2 separate regions of the Homo sapiens genome follow, and region 1 is linked to region 2. The links come from fine-mapping of genetic effects on gene expression. Tissue or cell type: whole blood. Region 2 holds a variant in brackets; the other region holds the start of a gene. All regions are shown on one strand. Distances are from middle to middle. Region 1 holds the start of LINC02207 (long intergenic non-protein coding RNA 2207). Region 2 overlaps LINC02207 (long intergenic non-protein coding RNA 2207).

Region 1 (2,924 bases), 4.6 kb before region 2:
AATTCTATAAATACGTTAAAGATATAAGGGGCTGCAGTAGATACCTGCTGAGATAGAGAGGGTGATAAAGAGAGGGAGAGGAGGAGAAAGTAACTCCTGTTACATGGCTGAAGGTATTACTCTTCAAAGCATTGAATGCGAGGAAAAATACACTCAAGTTAGAAAAGAAAAAGAGCACTATTTACATGATCAATGTGTTTACTTTGAGAATAGGAGGCATTCGGTAGAAGATTGCTGAAAGTCTTCAAATTATGTTATTGATAAGGCTCTAGGCTTATTAATCACAAATGGACCTCTGCCATAACTTCCACCTTCTGAATTATTTATATATGTGTCCTTGGATGTCAAATAAACCTATGGTAGTAACTTTTTAAAATATTTCCTAAGGCAAAACATTACTAAGCATCTTTTTTTTTTTTTTTTTATCAAGGCCTGAGATTGAAGTTAGAAAATAAAGTTTAAAAATAGATATTTGAAAAGAATTGCATTTTTGTAATGACATTTTAAAGCACAGAAAAGCTGTGAATACTTTGTTTCAATCAGACCAAATTCACTTTTATAACAAATAAACTGAAAATTCATTAGGTAAAATCTTTCCAGGCATCCAGGCCTTGGGATGTTTCTCTCCCTTAGTTTCATTTCACTGGAAGGAATTCTGGCAGGCTCAGAAATCATATGAACTAACCAGGGGAGGGATGGAATCAGCCTTCATTGCCTGGTGGTTTCTCTCTGTGTGTATTGTGACATGCACACACGTGCAAATAGAGAAAACCTCCATTTAATTCCTTAAGCAATTGTAACAGGCAGGCATCATTTTCATTTAAGCATGAAGATTGGGACTCAAAGATTTGCATAACTTGGGGAAGGTCACACCGTATGAAGGAAACATATTCAAGCCCAGCCCAAACTTCAGTTCTCCCACAGCCAGCTGCCTCTCACATGAGGTCAAATTACCTGACATACATAGAGTGAGTTTGGAAACTTAATAAAAACTCTCCTCCTCTCAAATGTTTCCTCTACCTAAGTCCCTGGCGTTTGGCTCTGAACAAGTCCTTTGAGGGTAAGAGGTACTGATATTAGGAATACTTTCTAAGACACCACGCCAGTGCTTCCATTGTTAGCTTACAGTGCACACACATTCACGGAGTTTATCAGACTCCGTCCAGCCTGGGATACTCTGAGCCTCTAAGAGCCCAGGGAACTCAGACGGCAAAGTTGGAGTAGGAGACCAAATCACCCATCCTCATTCGTCATGCTGATTACTTTGCCTGCAGCTAAACCTGTCTTTAATTTTAAAATTAAATATTTTTAAAAAGTGTTTCTTCCTGTGGAATTGTGTTTTAGAAATTCTGATTTTCTTTTCCAATTTCCCTTGGAGATCAAATTTGAAGAAAATATTATTGAATACCTACATGATAATTTGCTACAGGTAATGTACAAAAGAGAATATAATGACATAAATATATTTGTGTTTATATTGTCATAAAACTCACCTTTCAGTTCTATTTAGTAAAAGCTTACCCTGTATATGGACCCATGCATGGATAGGACATGCTATCTGCTTTCTCATGAGGAGCAGAGGCACAGGTAACTTTGAGGCAGGGAGGTTGTGGTTATGCAAAGAAAGATGATAAAGAAGAAATGGGAGAGCTAGAAGACAAACAGCCATACGTGGTATGTGATAAAAAAGCTAAGTGAGCACATGGACAGAGTGCTAAAGCTCTAAGAGAGAGGAAATCTTTTTATTTCATGGTAGTAAAGCATTTACCACCTCATAATAGTTTTGTGACCTTATGAAAAAGGCTCGGGCTCTCTCAGCTCTGGTTTCCCCAGCTGTAAAATTGCAATGATAACAGCTTACCTCTGAGGATAGTTGTGAAGGTGAGGTGGTGAGCTAAAGAGCTAAGGAATCAATTAGTGGCTTTTATTATCATCATTATTGTTATTCAATGAGGAGATGATATTTGAGATAAGCCTTCCTAGAAAGAATATTTGAGGAAGTTTAGGAGAATGGGAAAGAGAACATCTATGTGGGTATGGGATGGTGAGGGGTGGAAAAAAATGGTGAACAGGTGGCATGTGCATTGTATGATTGGGAAAGGAGAGACGGGAAAGGAGCTGTCTGATTATGTCCTGGTTCCTGATGCCGGCTAGTGTGTGGTTAGGAGGGGATAAGAGGACAGGGCTAGTTTGGGGGCAATAGTTATATTATTTCTCATATGGCTTCTCAATTAACTTAGGATATTCTTCCTAAAGTGTTATCTCTGTCAGGAAAAATTGTGGAAAGACTTTGAAATGGATAAAATAATTACTAGGTGTCCTCTTTAGCTGCCTTTCCATTTTACCTAATTCTATAGGGGTCTGCACTTCTTTTGAACCATTTTATAAATCTGTAATGTGTAGAAAGCTTATGTGAATGCAAATGACTTTTTCCTAGGAATGCAAATAAACTTTGTCCAGTAGAATCAAATGTATTATTGCCCAGTAACTATTGACATCTTCTGTGTTTGTTTATTTCAGCATTTCTGATTGCACGGATGTGTGTGTTGTTTGAATCCTCCCTCATACTGATCGTAACATCTTACTGGTTCACTCATTACTTAAAGAAAATCTTTACATACATTCATTTTATATTTGTTAAGAGTCATATTTTATTGGGAGGTCGAGGCGGGAGGATCACGAGGTCAGGAGATAGAGACAATTCTGGCCAACACGGTGAAACCCCGTCTGTACTAAAAATACAAAAATTAGCTGGGCGTGGTGGCATGTGTCTGTAATCTCAGCTACTTGGGAGGCTGAGGCAGGAGAATTGCTTGAACCAGGGAGTCGGAGTTTGCAGTGAGCCGAGATCACGCCACTGCACTCCAACCTGGTCCTGGTGCCACTGCACTCCAGCCTGGCAACAGGGCCAGACTCTGTCTCAG
Region 2 (2,924 bases):
ATTGAAAATACAGTAGGTTTGTTTACACCAGGATGACCACAAACATGTGAGTAATGCATTGAGTTGTGACACGACAATGACTATGATGTCACTATTGATAGGAATTTTGTGGCTTTGTTTTAATCTTATGGGACCACCTTTGTATGTGCAGTCCATTGTTGACTACAACATTGTTATGCAGAACATGATTGTGTGTGTGTTTGTGTGTGTGAATCCAACGAGGATATCCTGCAGCTACCCGGCTATATCCTGGCAGACCCCTTTCCTGCAGCAACATGTCCATTTATTGCTGCAGACTGTTCTCACTGGTTTGATTATTCTCGGGACCCTCAGCCTTGCGGCTCATCTTTGGACTCTCCCACTCTTTTGAATTTGAGATATTGACTTCTTCTCCTCGATGCTCTCCAAGGACAATTTTTTGCCACGAACTCTTTGACATTTTTGCTGTTGGAGGACTTGAATAGGCTACCTTTGCCCTGGCAGACCCATGCTCTGGCACTAATCAGTTCTACCCTTCCAAGTGGAGAAGATAATCATGGTCTCTGGGGCTACAGCTCATATGCAAGGGCATTGGTGGAAATTGGCTATGGTTCCCATAGATGAGCACACAGTATATATTTCATTTACATGAACGAGTGGTCTTTTCAAATAAAACTTTTTTTCCCTTTTTTTTTTTTTTTTCTGGAGACAGAGTTTCACTCTGTCGCCAGGCTGGAGTGCAGTGGCACAATCTCGGCTCAGTGCAACCTCCGCCTCCGGGGTTCAAGCGATTCTCCTGCCTCAGCCTTGGAAGTAGCTGAGACTACAGGCACGTGCCACCATGCCCAGCTAATTTTTGTATTTTTAGTAGAGACGGGGTTTCACCATGTAGGCCAGGATGGTCTCGATCTCTTGACCTTGTGATCCACCCACTTCGGCCTCCCAAAATGCTAGGATTATAGGTGTGAGCCGCTGTGCCTGGCCTAAAACTCTTTGACACACACAAGGGTACAATCAATGTGTTACCATAGGTGAGTTTAACCAAATGTCCTTTAACATTACCTTAGACTCCAGGGTTTCTCAACCTTGGTAATATTCATACCTTGGGCAGAATATTTCCTTTTGTGGAAGGGCTGTGCTGAACATTGTATAATATTTATCAGCAGTCCTGGCCTCCATCCACTACATACAAGTACCCTCCTCCCTGATATGACAACTAAAAATGCCACCAGACATTTGCCAAATGTCCCTGAGGAGTGAGGAAGACGGGGGACAAAATCACCCTTGGTTGAGACATTTATCTATGTGTGTAGGTTGCTATTATTTGCAATCCTAACCCTGGAAACAAGAAAAATCTCCCAACATCTGACCTGGAGGCTTACAGAAAAAAAAGTGCTTGTCAGTAACCATTACACTTCGATTTGGGATTCCTGGGTGCATAGCAAAATAGAAAGTCGTCAGTTTTGTTTTGCTTTACTGATGTGTGCTTTAGGGGAAAAGCAAAGTGATCTGGTTGTGCTTGAATGAGATAGTGGTATTTTCATAACACAATTAGAATGGGGAAAAATTGCATGCAATTAGGTTGAAAGATGCCTTCTTTAAGATGCACTTGGCATAACAGAGCCAGCAGGTTGCAAATTATGGAATGTAGATTTTCATTATCGGGTCTGCATAATGTATAGCTTGCATTTAACAACCAGGTCTGAGGGTGGGTAGGAAGCATGT[C/G]AATTGTTTGGTGCGGTAACTAAGGCTTAACACTTTCTACCTCTGGTTTTTTTTATTGCTGTTGCCTTAATTTAAGCACATTTGCCGCTATATTTGCATTTTCTTCAGTTGCTCTTTTTTCTAGTGTATTACCATCATGGTCGCTGCCATTGACTATCAGCATCCTGTGGAAAATCATTTTAGAATCCTCCCAATGCTGGAGAGAGCAGAGATGTGAAGCCTGGCCATCCCCAACCCGGGCATGCCCAATGAGATGACTGGGAAGACCATGGCCTCAGTTTTTTCACTGGACAAAATGGGAGGAGGGGCAGTCGATGCTCATTTTCCAGTTCCTGCCTGACCCTCTCTGACCCTTTACTTTTTAAATCATTCATCAAATGACCATTTTAAAGTTTTAAAAAATTTTCAGTTCATCATTACTATCATTTTTCATCATATTTCACTGGGGCCTTATTCTTGCCAGGAAACTCTCTGCCCTAGTTCAAAACCTAGCTTACCACTTATGACAGTAGTCCCCCCTTATCTGTGGTTTCACTTTCTGTGGTTTCAGTTATCTAGTCAGCCACAGTCTGAAAATATCAAAAGAAAAATTTCAGAAAGAAATAATTCATATGTTTTCAATTACGCACTGTTGCTGAGTAGCGTGATGAAATCTCTCTCTGTCCCTCTCTATCCTGCCTGAGACGTGATGCATCCATGTGTCCGGCGTGTCTGCGCCGTAGACAGTACCTGCCTGTTAGTCACTTAGCAGCCATCTCGGTTATCAGACCGGCGGCCATTGTATTGCAGCAGTGCTTGTACTCAATTATTTAACTCAACTATTCTATTTTATTATTAATTGTTGTTAATCTCTTCCTGTGGCTAATTTATAAATTACACTTTATTATAAGGTATCCATATACAGGAAAAAACATAATATACATAGGATTCAGTACTATTTGTGGTTTCTGGCAACCACTGCAGGGGGGTTGCCTGGAATGTATCCTCATGGACTACTGTAGCTGGAAAATTGACTGAACTTCTAATCAGGGGTCATAGTCAAAATAGATAAAATTGTTGAGGCTCAACCAGTTCAAGCAGATGACAGCACAGCCCAGGAGCAGGTACTGGGAGTTCCTGCTGTACCAGGCGCTCAGCTTTGAGTCACTGGATCATGTGAAAGCAGGGAGGGGAACAGGCCAAGTGGGGAGCAGTCAAAGGAGGTGACCCAGAGGAGGACT

The links.
Region 1: it holds the start of LINC02207, and the variant in region 2 is fine-mapped to the expression of LINC02207 in whole blood (INTERVAL, PIP above 0.99).

Annotation. Positions count from the first base shown.
Region 1 is chr15:93,854,716-93,857,639 of GRCh38, forward strand. LINC02207 (long intergenic non-protein coding RNA 2207) reads left to right here and starts at 1,845. Exons shown (of 4, transcript NR_120321.1): 1 at 1,845-1,881.
Region 2 is chr15:93,859,287-93,862,210 of GRCh38, forward strand. The region is part of intron 1 of LINC02207 (long intergenic non-protein coding RNA 2207); the gene reads left to right. Among named protein-coding and RNA genes, the nearest start is that of LINC02207, 4.2 kb to the left of the region's middle. The variant C/G (reference allele first, on the strand shown) is at 1,705.